Regions from separate parts of the Homo sapiens genome. Here regions 1 and 2 are each linked to region 3. Evidence: fine-mapped expression QTL. A gene starts in region 3. Each other region holds a variant in brackets. All regions are shown on one strand. Distances are from middle to middle. Region 1 has its middle 13 kb from the start of LINC00618. Region 2 has its middle 53 kb from the start of LINC00618. Region 3 holds the start of VRK1 (VRK serine/threonine kinase 1).

Region 1 (5,608 bases), 160 kb before region 3:
ATGGGCTAGCCCATCACAAGCCCCCACACATGTGCTGAATGACGAAGTAACTCCAGGTAGAGATTCTCACACCTGTTTTGCAGGTGAGGAAACTGAGATCCAGAGAGGATGTGCAATTTGTGCAATGCCAGGACCCGTCTCCAAAGTCCAGGCTCCATCCTCTCTAGCTGCCGCCTTCAGCGGTGCTGGGTATCATAGTGAGAGGTTAACGTTTCCTGTATGTTTAAGCGTATAAGCGCATCAACATGTTGTCTCATTCAGTGTCCATAGCAACCACAGCAACAGGCCTAGCATTGCATCTATTTTAAAGCTGAGGAAACTGAGGCACAGAGATGTTGAGCAACTCACCAAGGCTCTCGACAGGTGAGTGGCAGAGCTGGGATTTGGACCAAGCAGGCTGCCCCCAGGGCTCATGTGCCCACCAAGTGGGCTCTGCTACCTCCCCCAGGGGATAAACTTAGGTTTTGGAAGGCAGGAACACCCTAGACTCCCTGCCCTGTGGGAGGGGACTTTGAGGGGCAGCAGCACGTGGAGCCCGAGGCCAGGCATGAAAGCCAGGCAGGCCCCCAAGGCAAATCCAGGAGCCAGCACTTGCTAGCTGCGAGAACCTCGGGCCTCAGTTTACTCAGCAGGAACAAAAGGTGGGGAGAGGCTATGCCCACTTTGAGATGCGTGTCCAGCATTTGGCACAGACATGCAGGCACAATCAAGGTGATCTGCAGAAAGCACTCAGAACAGTGTCTGGTACAGGTGGAGTGTCCCTAAGAACGAGTTACCGCTGCTGTTGTTATTACTGTTAATGCTCTTTAACCACCCTCCCACATCCATGATGGAAAAGCTGAACCATCAGTACAGTGGGAGGTGATGGGGGTGCCTAGAGAAAATGATAAGCAGGAGCCTGGAGTCAGCACACCTGTCCCTAACCCAGTCCCATACCCCGGGGCAGGTTCTCAATCTGTCTGTGACTCATTCCCTCTGCCACTCCCATCCATGAACCAGGGACAGCAGTGATAACCCCCACCTCATGGCCTTGTTGCAAGCACTAACTGAGATCGCCCATGCTGTCTTTAGAGCTGTGCGGGCACGGGGGAAGCATTCCGTAAGTGCTGCCTGTTCATGTCGCTAGTGGTCGCAGCCTGGTCTGTCTTAGAACTTCATTAGGACCAGGCGCGGCGGCTCATGCCTGTAATCCCAGCGCTTTGGGAGGCCGAGGCAGGCGGAACACGAGATCAAGAGATCGAGACCATCCTGGCCAAGATGGTGAGACCCTGTCTCTACAAAAAATACAAAAATTAGCTGGGTGTGGTGGCGGGTGCCTGTAGTCCCAGCTACTCAGGAGGCTGAGGCAGGAGAATTGCTTGAACTCAGGAGGCAGAGGTTGCAGTGAGCTGAGGTCGTGCCACTGCACTCCAGCCTGGCAACAGAGTGAGACTCCATCTCAAAACAACAACAACAACAACAAAAAACTTCATTAGAAATGTCTGGTTTGGTCAAGTCCGTGCACTTCTGTTTCAGGTGGCTATGCCAGGCTGCCCCAGGCTGGAAAATCACACACAGCCTCCAGACTCAAGAGGCTCACAATTCCATGTGGATAAAAATGACCCCACTTAGTTCTTACATAAGGTTGGCTGTGAGCTGAGCCATGGCTGAGAGACGCAAGGGAAATTGCAGTGTTTGCCACTAGACCTGGACAGGGTTTGAGGGATTGAAGCAGGTCTCAAAGAATGAGGACAAAATGGTAGGGAAAGGGCATTCCAGGCAGAAGGATTTGCATACACAAAGGGCCGGAGACTGTTCGCAGATCACTACTAGAATATATAATGCCTTTGTGTAAACTGAACAAAAGCTACCTTGAACCCAGTGCAGGCATCCTCAGTCTAAAGTGTACAGCTTGATGAACGGGCATTGGGCCATATGCCATGCCCTACCCACCCCTTGGCTGGGAGCCCTCGTATACAGTGAACAACCTGACCAGCCATACACAGGGCTTTAGGTGTTCAAGAAAATAAAGACTCATTTGATGCTGCTGGAATGTGATGTCCATGGAGAGAAGGGTGCAATGAGAAGTAATGTTGGAAAGATGAGATGGGCCATCTCATAGAGCAGGATAGCAAACTGGAGAGGGAGAGCCAACTGGTTGTCTGTAGTCTATCAATCAGGATTGTCTGCCTGGAGCAGGAGGTGGAGTACAGAGAGGATGCAGGCGCAGATAGTTCAGAAAGAGCTGAGATTGATTAGTGATGTCTGTCATGGACACAGAAAGGGAAACAGCTGAAGAATCCGCACATAGCCTGTGCTCTCCTTGTCTCAGCAGGGATGGCAAGCTAAGGAATACCATTTTATTCTGGCGATGTTGCTAAGAGGATTTTCCCCATAAGAGGCTCTTCTGGGGCAAAGTTAGCCTGCAGCTCTGTGGGACCCCATTCTCCCTCACATTTAGCTCTGTCTTAAATAATCAAAGTGCAGGTAGGGGAAGGAGAAAAATCCACCCGCTGTGGTGGAATGAAGCTGCAGCAGCTTCACTAAGATGGGTCTGCCTCTGCCTCGAGTGCACAGAGCCTTGGGCACAGACACTTGGCCCCAAGGAGTCTGCGAGACGAGTGCACCTCTAAAAATTAATTTTTAATTGGCACAC[C/T]CTCGACACGGGAAGGAACAAAGGAGGGAAGGAGATGGTGGGGAGGAGCCTCCCTGAACAACCTCCTGGTTCCCCACATGGCCCAGTGACCATCTGAACCTGTGCTGTCCACTGAAGTGACCACAGACTCCAGGAGGCTACGGAGCACTGGAAACACAGCCTGAATTGAGTCTGAATTGAGATGAGTCTTAAGCACTCGCCAGCTTTCAAAGACTTAGTGTGGAAAAAAAAGAATGCAAAATACCTCACTAGTAATTTTTATATGAATTACATGTTGAAATGATAATATTTTGGATAATTGGGTTAAATTATAGTATTAAAGTTTATTTCTCCTGTTCCTTTTTACCTGGCTACTAAAAAACCTCCTACACATGTGGCTCGCTGTATGTTTCTGTGGGCCAGCACTGCTCTCAACTTTCCACAGGTGATTACGGCCTGTGCTGGGACCAGTCCCAGAGGTTTGGGCTCTGGCCACAAACGTATGTGAGGAGGGTGTAGCCCAGCCCACAGCTGGACTCCTTCCTCTACAGCACAAAACCTGCAGCCTGAAATCCCAGAGGAGAACCCCTGGTGCCTGGGGTACATGAGATTTGTGCTCTTCAAAGGAATCAACTTTATTTATTTTATTTTATTTTATTTAGACTATTTTCTAGAGCAGTTTTATGTTTGCAGAAAATGTGAGTGTAAAATACAGAGGCTTCTTGTGTATTCCCCTTGCCCTCACATTCACAGCTTCCCCCACTGTCAACATTTTGCATGAGTGTTGCCATTGCACTTGTTGCAACTGATCAACCAGTACTGACACCTTATTAATAATGAAAGTCCTTACTTTAGATTGGGGTTAACCATCTGTGTCATACATTCCATGGATTTTGGCAAATGGCATGTATCCAGCATTACAGTGGTGTACAGAATAGCTTCACTGCCCTCAAAAGCCCCTGAACTCCACCTTTTCATCCCTCTGCACTTCCTCCCAATTCTTAGCCACCACCCATCTTTCTACCATCTCCATAATTTTGCCTTTTTCAGAATGTTATATGGTTGGAATCATACACTAGCTAGCCTTTTCAAACTGGCTTCTTTCATTCAGCAATGTGGACTGGAAGTTTCTCCATGTCCTTTTGTAAGCTGACAGTCCATTTCTTATCTCTAAATAATATTCCATTGTATAGCTGTACCACGTTTGTTTATTCACTCACTTATCGAAAGACATCTTGGTTGCTCCTAGGTTTTTAGTTTTTAACAGATTTTAAACATCTAGATTCTTCAATTCTCATGTTATTAGTAATTTAGGAGAAGAATAAAACACAGTTTTGGAAGCGGTGAGTGGAACTAGGCCATCAAATACATTGACGGCAGATGTGCAAATCACTGCCCCTGTCCTCAAAGGTGTGTCTCAGATCCCCCAAGGAAGGAGAGGTCCAAAAGAGGCAAGTCCAGGGGGCTGGGATTCAGGAATGCCCCAGGAGCACCTGCTACCTCCAAACCAAACTGGAGATGCAGGACTCGCTGAACAATTGTGGTGGGGTAAAGGGAGGATAGTGAAGGGTCTTTCATCAGCTGAATACCAGCCAAATGCCAGGTGATCACCCACATTTTTAATCCCAACCAAAACCCTGTGGGGTCTGAATCAGTGAACTTGTTTTTCAGCTCAGAGAAGCAATGTAACCTGCCTGAGGGCACACAGCAAGTTAAGCACCAGAGTTGAGCTTGGAGGCCAGGCCATCTGACTCCAAAGCCATGCATGTACATTTCAAAGTAGAGTATCCCCTCCCCCACCGAGAACAAGGCCCTCATGTCCGCATCTTTGGGATGTAGTACCCAACTTCATCCTGGATCTTGCCCAAAATTTCCATTCCAACATCTTGTTACAAATGTAATTTCCATGAGAATACGAATCTTGTCTGTTCTTGTCACTACAGCATCTGCAGTACCTAGCACAATGCTTATCACATAGTAGGCACTCAGTAAATATTTCTTAAATGAATACATGAACAAATGAATGAATAGACTCACAGTCTGGAGGAGGTGAAAAAGGAGAAACATACCTGGCTAGAGCGTGATCAAGGGCAGAGGTACCTGATGCAGCAGGAACATTCAGGCGGGGCCCCTGATCCAGCCTGGGGCATTAATGGCTTCCTGGAGGAGGTGATGCTTATGTTGAGTCTCAAGAATGAGCTAGAATCCGAAGAGGCAGGGGAAGCAAACCCAAAGCAGAGAGGCGGGACCAGGATAAGTAGAGTGGATGCATAGAAGGGGAGACAGAGAGAGGCCAGCAGAAGCCTTGTAGGTCACCAGAAGAGTCCTGGAGTCTATCCCACAGACACTGGGTGATGGTTCCAAAAGGGAGTGCAATCTATGTGTGGGCAGAGGGGTGAGGCCCCATCACCTGGAGGGAGACTCTGGGCCCTGGAGAAATAGCAAACTATAAAAGGGGTGTGTGGAAGCATGCAATAGAGAGGCCACCTCACATCACGTTTGGCAGCCTCCCCTTAGGTGCCAATCAGACCTGGGTTTTGGCCAGCTGTGTGACCTCACCTCCAGCAAGACACGTCTCCCTCTAAAGCTGTGTCCTCACCTTTAAAACAGGAGACATGTGCCTGTTCCAGTCAGGGTTACACGAATTATCACAAGCACAGGGCCTGGCACACAGGAAGTGCTTGATAAATAGTAACAGTGGCTATTGATAAATAGGAGCTATTATCATTATTTATCAAACCAGCACATGGGATTTTTTTTTAAAGGTTGAAAAACACCACCCTAGGGAGCCATTAAAAGACTTTTAAGGAGGACACTGATGGGATCTGATTTGCAATTCAGAAAGATCACTCAGGCTGCTGAGTGGAAGATGGATGAGAGGAGGAGAGAAAGTCAGAGACCAGCAAGGAGGCGATTTCCATCATGCAGGTGAGAAATGACCAGGACAGGCATCGCCAGGGAGCTGAAGAGGAGCCAGAATGGAGGCATCTCGTG
Region 2 (5,608 bases), 93 kb before region 3:
CCTAGTTGAAACAATGTAAACCCTGACTACCAATTTATCTAAAAATACCTAATTGTACGAAAGGATAGGGGAAGGGGAAGAGTACAAGAGAGCTAAAATCTCATCTATCATAATAAGAACTCAATACTTAAGTTTTAAAATTGATAAATAGTAAATTCGTCAATGTGACAGCAAAACACAAAACTCAAAAATTGTATTTCTTTACACTAACAATGAATCTGTGGAAACTGAAATTAAAAACAATACCTGCCAGGCACGGTGGCTCACACATGTAATCCCGGCACTTGAGGAGGCCGAGGTGGGCGGATCACCTGAGGTCAGGAGTTGGAGACCAGCCTGGCCAACGTGGTGAAACCCCATCTCTACCAAAAATACAAAAATTAGTCGGGCGTGGTGGCGGGTGCCTGTAATCCCAGCAACTCTGGAGGCTGAGGCAGGACAATTGCTTGAACCTGGGAGGTGGAGGTGGCAGTGAGCTGAGATCACACCACTGCACTCCAGCCTGGACAACAGAGCAAGACTTCAACCCCTCCCCCCCCACCAAAAAAAAAACACAAAACCATTTACAACTGCTTCAGAAAAAAGTTAAATTCTTAGGTATACACTTAACAAACTAAGTACAGGATTGTATATTGAAACTCAAAGACCTAAACAACAACAACAACAACAACAAAGTATTGTGTTCATAGATCGAAAGATTTAACACAATAAAGATGTCAGTTCTCCCAAAATTGTCTGTAGTTTCAATACCATTTTTTGTAGACCTCAATTTCATTCTAAAATTTGTATAGAAAGGCAAAAGTTCTCGAATAGCTAAACCAATCTTTAAAAATGACCAAGCGGGAGGAATCTAATACCAAAGCTCACTATATAGCTACAGTAATCAAAACAGTGTGATACTGGCAGATCAGTGGACATAGAGCTAGCTGAATAGAAAATCCACAAATAGACTCATCTACAAATATGTCTAATTTTTTCTGATGGTGCAAAATCAATTCAGAAGAGGAAGAAAAGTCTCTTCAAAAAATTGTTCTGAGGCCAGGCGCGGTGGCTCACGCCTGTAATCCCAGAACTTTGGGAGGTCAAAGTGGATGGATCACGAGGTCAGGAGTTTGAGACCAGCCTGGCCAACATGGTGAAACCCTGTCTCTACTAAAAATACAAAAATTAGCCGGGCCTAGTGGCGCATGCCTGTAATCCCAGCTACTTGGGAGGCTGAGGCAGGAGAATTGCTTGAACCCGGGAGGCGGAGGTTGCAGTGGGCTGAGATTGCGCCATTGCACTCCAGCCTGGGCAACAGAGCGAGACTCAGTCTTGGAAAAAATAAAATAATAGTAATAATAAAATTGTTCTGAAACAATTGGACATCCATAGGCAAAAAGCAGAATCTTGACTCGAAACTCACAGCTTATATAGATATAAAAAAACCCTCAAAATAGATCAAAGCCTTAGATGTAGAACATAAAACTCTAGAACTTTCAGGGAAAATTGAAAAATCTTCAGAATCTAGGGCTAGGCCAAATTCTTAGACCAGACACCAAAAGCATAATCCCTAAAAGGCAAAGCTGATGAATTGGATGGTGCTCTCTTAACTATGGTCTTCAAAATTCAGCCCTCTGGGCAACAGATAGAACCTTCTCTAAGGAAATAGACCAGTCCAAGAGAAAAGACCTTAAGTGAATCACATGGTAACACGTGAGGTGCCTCCTGTACTGTGTGCAATGTCAAATCCTCTCTCATTCCAGACCAAGTGACGTCAGCCAACTCTGCCCAGGCTTCTACCAGGTTCCTGAAGGCCCCTCTCCTTTCCTTCTCTAGGGGTTGTATGAGATGCCTACCAGGAACATTGCATTCCACATGTGCAATTCAGGAGCATGGGAAAGTTAGCACCCAAAAGATCACACCACTGCACTCCAGCCTGGGCGACAGAGACTCCATCTCAAAAAACAAAACAAAACAAAACAAAAAACACACAGCAGGGCTGTTCTTGCTTTGTCTTCCATAGGAGAAGCCATCAAACTCATCTCTTAGAGAGTTTTGTGACATGATTTTTAAAGCCAGTTTTATTTTTATTAAAGCTCAATTAGTTACATATACAATAACATATTAATTTTACTGCATTATAATCTTAACATGGATAAAATGACCTCTCTTGTCCTTTTCTATCAGCTTCTGGTATAGAACAAAAATCATCAGAGACCATCCAGCTGTTGCTTTGCTAAGACATGTGAAGCTCTTATACTTTCATTGATGTTGCCTCAGCCATCTAGCCAAAGACTGAAAAAGTAAACTTGTATGAAAAATCCCATGTGAATATGGACTCCTAAAATGGAAACGTAATTTTAGCAGAATTACCTCCACCCAGATTTTGTCTGCCAGGTGGCTTTCAGTAGGGAAGATAACATCATCAAAGACAAAGCCTGATCACAGTTCTGGGGGTGATAGAGAAAGCTAGCTATGGAAGAATGGTCAAATAGAGGGAGATGGAAAGTATTTGAACCTCTTGTGACTTTGAAAAATTTAAGATTAAATACAATTTCTAATAGCTTCTGAATGGGGCAATAGAAAAAGCCATCATTTGGAGTCTTAAAAAATCTGTAGATTTTTGAAACAGAAAAACTATTCTTTTCAAAATAGGACACTGGCAAAATGGGGCAGGGTGGGGGTGGAGGGCTGTTTCAGTTGCACTGGACTGAGTCAAGGTGACAGGATGTATTTGCCCACTAGTTTCTCTCCACGTCTTCATTCCCAGGATACTAACGATTCAGAGATAAATGTACACTGAATGCACCCTGTACCAGTCTAA[T/AT]TTCTTTTGACAGCCTGCATTACAAATTGTAAAAATTTTTGAAATTAAGTACCTTTGAAAATGGAAAACTGAACTAACGTTCCAATTTGGAGGAAGGGGGACTCAATGTAGAAATTAAAATCATGGTAAACTAATTTGCCAAGGGTGGGGGAGTGTTAGAAATGGTCTTCTGACTTTAACCATAATAATAACGAGGACTATCAATTAGGCAAAGAGTGCTCTGAGCCTATGTGTTGGCTCCACTACAATTTTTTTTTTTTTAAATGTCTGGCAGAATGTTTTACAAACTAAACCCAGCGAGACTATAATTCTACCAGAAGGTGCCTCAGATGGTTTTGCTAATAATTTTGATAAGCTAAAATGGAGAAAAACATCATTTCAATTATTCACTTTTCAAAAACCATCAATTTTAAGTTACAATATTAAATGTCTTTCTTCCTTCCTTCATCGCCATCAACCAAATGAAACCAAACCCTGGAAGAACCCTCACCAAAAGGCAAAGGGGGTAGGCAGTGACATTTTTGAAATATGTTAGCATGCTAAAAATCTTGTCATTAATTTCTTGCCGCTCAGAAGTTGTGTCCAGTTTATGTGTAACTTTGAGGAGAGTAAGTTCCTTTAGAGAACTCGGAGGAAGCCAGCATTGCTACTGCCGCAAAGATGAAAGTGCGAACCACCATATATTGGCTTTTAATAGCCTTTTAACCAACTTTGTTAATGGACTGAATGCAATTTAGATATGGAACTTGGCGAAAACGTAGCTTCAATTGGCTATTAAAATTTAAGAGCCAACTAAGATAGCTAATTACAAAAAAAGCTCCAGTGATAATGCTAAGCAGAATTAGTAATAGCAAATGGCAGTCTGTCTAGTCTTATTCCCACAGGGAAAGAAACTCTTAACTGAGAAGTCAACCAGACAATGTGCAGCAAACCTAATTGCATTACTGGTATTATGGCATACGAATCTGGCAGCTCCCTGGGACAAAACAGGGAATAAAATCTGCCGAACTCGAGGCAGAAAGCGACTGACCCTCGTTTACATGCCAGTTAGAAAAGATTCCAGGAAATGTTATTTCTATTCAGAGTTGATGAGTAAATGCTCTTTTACTAAGGAACATTCCTGTAAAACCCTAGTAAGGACTGAGCAGTAAGGAAACAGACCTTCCAAAAAAGTTTCAAAGAAATAGATCCGACACCCACGCAGAATTAGATTTTTCCTTTAGATATTTAGGTCTTAAAAAAGGCAACAATAAACATCTGACTGCTAAAAAGTTGAGTTTAGAGGAGAATAATGTTCTGCTTTTTGCTTCATTACAGATACCCTCATTATGGCATCAGCTGAAGTGCAGACTGGCTCTCCTGTGAAGATTTATCATGTGTGGTGGCCACTTTGAATTGGAGGTGCTGTAGTCTTCAACATTCCCTAGTCAAGTGTCTCCCTGCTGTGCCTGTAAATGTCAGTCCAGTTTTTTCACGGCTGTGCGCACAGATTAGAAACAGCAGGAGAGCTTGGGAGTATGACTACAATACCAGTAAGGACACTTGTCTTCGTGGCACTGCTCAAGTGATTCTTGGAATGCAGGACCCTGCTGTTTTCTAATATTTACACACAACTGGAGTCATCAAGAGCAGTAAATGCAGTCTAAAGGAAGCTTGCTTCTTTGTGTTAGGGACTTTACATTCAAATAGGGGTATCAACAATAACATTAAAAAAAATCCATTTTAAAAACTTTCATATTTCCCCTCAATTTTGCTGCTACAAGACCAACCAGGTATTATCATGACTGTTCACTTAGCTTGACCCTCCCTTCCAAACACTTTCTATGTGCATCACACAGTTCATTGGGAACAGCAGGTGTTTCAGATTTTTGGCCTCAATTGTGTTTTTGCAGGCTGTGGTTTCTCTGACCTCTACAAGAACAGACAGGGCCTTGGAAACCATTTTGATGTAATTTCAACCACCTTTGCTTTCTGAACACTTTGCATGACATATCAGAGACTTATTTTGGGACTGTAGCACCTGGAATACAGACGGCTTCTCTTTTGAAAGTCTAGTTAGAAACTTAAAAAAAGGAAAAAAAAACCCATTGCAACTGTGTGCATATCTTAAGAAATGTCTAAATGACCCTACTTAAAATTATGAATGCTAAGGCACAATATTTAAAAAATGGCAAAAACTACAATTACTTTTGCATCAATCTAATACTTTGCCATAACTGTTTAATTATCTGTCAAGGGTTTCTGGACTAGAAACTTGGGGTGGGGAGGTACACAGGGATTAGATCATATACTTCTGCAATTACAATGTCAAGCAGACTGGGATGTACGTTATTACTTCTCCAGTTAAACTGATTCACATGTTTGCACCAAAATGTTCCATAATAGTTAACGAAGTAAATGAAGACGTGAGGCTGTTTGTGTTGGGGCAGGGGAAGGAGTAGGGAAGAACTAAAATATCCACGTCAAAGGTCTTCCTAAGAACCTTGGAGGCACATTTCTCGACCTACAAAAGTTCAAGAAGTAAATGTACTTTTTTCTCTCTTCACCGGACAATCTAATAGAATCACTTCCCAGTTGTAACTTTCCCTGGAATACACTGTCCTAGAACTTTCGAGTCCTCAGGCTTAGCTGACCAGACCCTTCAGTGGCTCTACTTTCACTTTTAAGTACTAACACATATTGGTCCCTTATGGGAAAAGACTACGAAAGTGTGTAGGGACCTTTCTCACATCTGAGAATTATACCAAGGACCACCATCATGAACTTTTGAACTATGATTTTTGTGTCAAGGCCAGAGAGAAT
Region 3 (5,608 bases):
CTTGAATTTGAGTGCAAAGATTTAAGACAACATTGGGAGAGATGGAGCAGGAGTAATTGGGAAAGTGCATGAAATTACTTCAAAACAGCAACTTCAGAATGCTGGGTGCTTAAATATCATTCAAGCACCAAAGGGAAAAAATTCAAAGGACAGAGCCCTCTGCATCTTTATAATGGCAAGTAGAAATATATTCACAGGAATTTTGATCAAAAGAGCCAAACTTATCCTAGAGTAAAAATACATCTTGGTTACAACACCTACCTAAATGTTTTATTAGGGTTCTATCACCCTTTTAAATTAATCTTGTACCTTTATTAAACATTTTCTACATTTTAACATTAATAGTGCAGTTTTTCAAAGGCGCCCTACACATTTATTGGATTATTCTGTGCTGGATGCTAGATAAAGTTAAAAAAAAAAAAAAAAAGACGTACACTAATTTAAAACAAAGAAAACTTGCTTCAGCAAAACACTACAATAGCAATAGACTTTGCACCTAGCACAATTCCTTGTAAATAGGGGGCACGTGATCTCTGCTGAATAAATGAGTCCATTTCTCCTTACTCCGAAAAATAACCCTGGCAAGCATGTAAAATATCCTACCAGTCTGAAAAATATTCTCCAGTCCTATTCAGCTACCAATCCATTCTCAGAACCCATCAAGAGCAATTTTCATGAAAGCCTCACTCACACGCACAAAGAGGCAGCATTTAATTCCCATTAGGCTCACTGCCTGATCTACGGAGATATAAGCATTTGCACATTTGCATAAATTCAGGAGACATCCTTCATTTGATATAAGGTAAATCTTAAAGCTTCGCTTCATTTCCAAATAAGTTTTATTTTTCAAATCAAAAATATTTTTAAAGTTTTATTTTTCAAATCATAATCCTAATCATAGTACATTATATCTTATTAGGGATGCTTTTAAGAAAAAAAAATATAGCTGTCAAAATTAAAATCTTGTTTTTTCATTTCTAGACATCTGGGACATTTCACTTATATATTTATTATTATTTCACATTAGTTCTCAAAGTTAAAAAAAAAAGCTGGCCTATTTCCTTTAAGAAATTTAATTTTAGGGTCTGTCAACATTTTGAATGCATTACTGTTATTTTTAAAATACACACTTGCATACTGGAATAAAACTTAGCATAAGCTTTCCATATAACCATTTCCTGGGCACTTACTAACTTACTATATGCCAGGCTCTATGCTTAACACATTACTCCATTATCTCATTTGTTTAACAAATATCCTCTCATAATTTTTGCAGCACTGAACATAACAAGAAGACATTGCACTATAAAACTGGTATTTGTACTGGATACCAGAACTAAATTGACAGTAACGCCTAACACAAGTTTATTGTTATTAAATTCAAGTTGTGTTACTGTATTAACACAGAATCTGATCAGCAATGTTGAGATGTAGAGAATACCATCTGTGGTAGCATCAACAGAGAAAGCTATTATTAAGTGACTACTTAAGTTACATTCCCTTCTATAGGTAACAGATGAACATAATCTTATCTACCCAGAAATTTAATTCCAATCACTACATGCCATTTTGAAGAACATAAACGTAACCTACATAAAATGACTATATAAAGAACCCTTGCTTCCTTCTGAAAATGCTTCAAAATTCTAGATTAAATTCTCCCCCAAAGTATCATGCTCAGCATGTCATAAAGAAAGGTGCCTTTATTGTCAACTCTTGAAAATAAATGCTGCCCTACTTTTTTTTACTCTTGAATTTCAGTCTCAACAGATGGGCAATTCCAGTTTAAAAAAAAAGAAGAAGAAAAGAAAAACACACACACAATAATTAATGAAGTTCTTCAACAGTTCCCTAAAACCAACATCCTCCCAATAGCAAATTGTATTTCCAAGTTGTTCCAAGAAAGGGACACAGGAAAGGGAAGGGAAGAGTCTATACAAAGGAAAACAAAAATGAGTGACTTGAAAGAAAGGACATCAGAAAAATGGGTGGCCTCAACAGGAACCTATAGTGTCTGACTCTGCTGCTGTCTGTCGAATTTAATTCTACCACCTAAGAGTTTTGAGACGAGAACCACAATACTATTTCGGTGGTAGGAAAAACTATGCGTTGCCCCTGAATGGAGCTGCAACAGTAAAGGATGCCACCCTGCCAGGTAAGGACAGAATGAGGAGGAACTGTCAAACGGTTATGAAAGTCCCTTGCAAAACACACAAGCGGCTCTAACTGCCTTGCACCAGACAGACCCTCAAGTACAGGATCACGGGGCCTCCCCGCGATGTGACAGGGAAATAACGGGCGGCCTCGCGGTCCCCAGGCCTGGCTGCTATCCTCAGGGGTCGGCCTCCCCTCTCAGGTCTCAAGTCAAAGGTCACATCCTCTGAGATGCCCTCCCGGATCACCTAACCTAAAGAGCCTCGCCCCCATTCCTCTAGCCCGCAACTGCCTGTCCCGTTTCTAAGAAAGCATTTCCGTATCCGCAAAACATCGCAGCTGCGTGTGTTGTTTCCCTTCTACAGAGTGAGCTCTGCGGGGCAGGGGCCTCGCCTGCGCTGTTCACCCGGAGCCCCGCCTGACAGAACCGGCTTCCCGGTGAGGCCCGAGGCGGCGTTTGCGAGCTCGGCCGCGACACCACGCGCGTCCAGAACGTGGAGCTCAGATGGGGGCCGGCCTGGCCAGTCCAGGCATCCCCGGGGGCGCCTGCGGGGCCTGAACGAGACAAGGAAGGAGCGGACGCCCGCGCAGGCGGAAGCCACGCGGCGGAGCGCGGTCCCGCGGGGCGACCGAGGCTGACGGCGACTCCCGCACCCCGGTGGACCCACAGGCCGCCCGGAAGGCCCAGTGCCGGCCCCAGCCCCGGCCGCCCGCCTCCGCGCCCCCGGCTCGGCGCGCGAGTCCTCGAGCCGTGTCGCCTGCGGCCTCCCTACCCTAAGCCGCAGACCCGTCGCGTTCTGCCCAGTACGAACTTCCCGCCGCTTTCGCCGACTCGTAACTCGGCAGCGGCGCCGGCCCCTTCGCACCCTGCAGTATGGAGCCTTCCCATTGGCTCGGAGGCGACGAGGAGGGGCGGGACGAGTGGTAACGCGAGGCGCGGGGCGGAGGCTACGCTAGCCCCGCGCCTCCCCGGGAATGCCGGGAGCTGTGGTCCAGCGCTCCCAAGGCATCCTGGGAGTTGGAGTCTCTTAGCGGCAAAGGGAGATCCCCGTCCTTCTGCTCCCTGGTCTTCTAGGAAATGTGGTTTACAGCCTTGTTCGTAGTAGCTTGATTTATTAAGTGTATTGGCAGAGAGTTGGGTGTAAAATAAGTTTCCTGTTTCTGTTAGGATTAAATGAAATAATCTATAGGCAGTACTTTAAACTTAGTTGGTGCTCAATAAATAGCAGATAGTGTTAGTATTATTCTGCCCACTCATTGATATGTGTCTAAATCCTACCTGTTTTTCGAAGCCTATTTCAAAGCATATCTCAATGTCTACCTAATCATCTATAGTGTTTCATCTGTAATCAACGTATGCCACAGTTTGCATTGTGTTTATTATTTATTTTTATTTATTTATTTTTTTGAGACGGAGTCTCACTCTGTCGCCCAGGCTGGAGTACAGTGGCACAGTCTCGGCTCACTGCAAGCTCCGTCTCCCGGGTTCACGCCATTCTCCTGCCTCAGCCTCCCGAGTAGCTGGGACTACAGGCGCTCGCCATCACGCCCAGCTAATTTTTTTCTGTTTTTAGTAGAGACGGGGTTTCACCGTGTTAGCCAGGATGGTCTCGATCTCCTGACCTTGTGATCCGCCCGCCTTGGCCTCGCCAAGTGCTGGGATTACAGGCGTGAGCCACCGCGCCCGGCCGCATTGTGTTTATTATAATCAGCTAAGTCTCCATCACCCATGAGGCTGAGAGCTTATTGGGCACTGGGTCATTGTTCTAGGTCAAAATCACTGAAGTCACAGGCAGAGGGAGATTAACAATGAAGCCAATGAAGCGTAAGCTTCAGGACCTCACTTGCGCAGGTCCCTCAATGAGTTTACATAGCTTTGGGGGTTTATTTGTCGATTTTACTTTTCTTTTTCTTTTTTTTAAAGATATAGTCTCACTTTGTCACCCAGGCTGCAATGCATTGGCGCGATCTCGGTTCACTGCAGCCACGACCTCCTGGGCTCAAGCAATCCTCCCACCTCAACCCTCCGAGTAGCTGGGATTACACGCACAGGCCACCACTTCTGGCTAATTTTTGTATTTTTTGTAGAGACAGGGTTTGACCATGTTGCCCAGGCTGGTCTTGAACTCCTGAGCTCAAACAATCCACCCCGCCTCAGCCTCCCAAAGTGCTAGAATTACAGGCATGAGCCACCACACCCAGCTGATTTTTCTTAAAGTAGATCCCCCAAAATTATGTGAGCTTCAGTCCCTACAAAACCTGGAATCACTCTGTCCATTAGACAGGGCAATATTGTGCCTGATGTCTTACATTTTCCCCTCCAGATACCCTCATCTGCTCCAAATACTTCTCCTGCCTGCCCTCTGCCCCAGGAGGCTGACCTCTACAAATTACTTCGCGCTCCCTGTGCCCCCTGGCTTTGGGGCGTGCCCAGTGGAGAACCCCACAGAAGATTGGAGGAAAAAGAAAGGTTGGTTAGAGTAGGTTAAGCCCCTGGATCCTGACTGGCAAGGTCACCTCCAGTTGGCAGGTCCCTCAGCTGAAGGTCACTGCTCCCTGGCCCTCCCTCCAGTTTGCGGTAGTAGCCCTTCCCTTTGTGCCTCAGGTCTGGAAGTGATGACATCACGGCTGCTGCTGACCCACAAGTTACTGCATCCTCCCTCGTGGTTCCTACCCCCAACACCGTTGTAAATAGTCTCATTGCAAATAACCTTCCTCAAATTACCCTATTTGGAATTATGTCATCTGCTTCCTGTTGAGACCCTAACAGAGCATGGGCAAGGTGAGCACTCGATAAAATCTGTCAGCAAAAAAGTCTCAAGATTCACACATCTCATGGGTGTGGAATCCCCCAGCAAGACTCTGTGGCCAGAATCCACTGAGAGAAAGACACACACACCCACACCCACACCCACACAAATACACACATATGTTAAGAAAACTTGGAACAGGACTTATCTGTCATAGTGTGACCATGTTCCCCTAACCTCACAATAGACACGTGAAGAAACATCCCTGTTTCCACACTGGGTTGACAATTGACTGACTTTAAAGCACAATTAAATCAGCAACAGTGTAAGGTAAGAATGGAATGTATTTATTCTGGAGCTCTTGGCCCTGGCACCCTTGATCTGATGGCTCACTGTTAAACACTCCTTACGTGCAGCCCTGTTCCAAGGCAGTTGCCGGCACCTACAACATCATCCACACATGCTGAGATGTCTTCCCAGTGCAGAGCATGGCAGGTCACCAGTCCAAGCTGCTGTCACAGAGACAACATGTCTGAAATGCTATAGATGGGGATACAACTCTCAAAGCTAGCAGACCCTTGGCACGTTTTTATGAGTTGATAGCTTGGTGTCAAGATCAGGGTCATACATAAGATTGACCAGCGAGGACTTGCTGTTGGTGGGCTTTAGAAATTAAGAATTGATGGCTCACGCCTGTAATCCCA

Evidence for each region. PIP is the estimated chance that this variant, and not a neighbour inherited with it, causes the effect. A credible set is the group of variants that fine-mapping cannot tell apart.
Region 1: its variant is the best candidate, but not a certain one, in a credible set for the expression of VRK1 in whole blood (INTERVAL, PIP 0.87).
Region 2: its variant is the best candidate, but not a certain one, in a credible set for the expression of VRK1 in whole blood (INTERVAL, PIP 0.55).

The regions. Positions count from the first base shown.
Region 1 is chr14:96,953,649-96,959,256 of GRCh38, reverse strand. No RefSeq gene overlaps it. Among named protein-coding and RNA genes, the nearest start is that of LINC00618, 13 kb to the right of the region's middle. The variant C/T (reference allele first, on the strand shown) is at 2,636.
Region 2 is chr14:96,887,473-96,893,080 of GRCh38, reverse strand. No RefSeq gene overlaps it. Among named protein-coding and RNA genes, the nearest start is that of LINC00618, 53 kb to the left of the region's middle. The variant T/AT (reference allele first, on the strand shown) is at 2,807.
Region 3 is chr14:96,794,767-96,800,374 of GRCh38, reverse strand. It overlaps VRK1 (VRK serine/threonine kinase 1), which reads right to left and starts at 2,993. Exons shown (of 13, transcript NM_003384.3): 1 at 2,928-2,993. RefSeq lists an enhancer at 2,136-2,667 and silencers at 2,612-2,901, 2,912-3,111.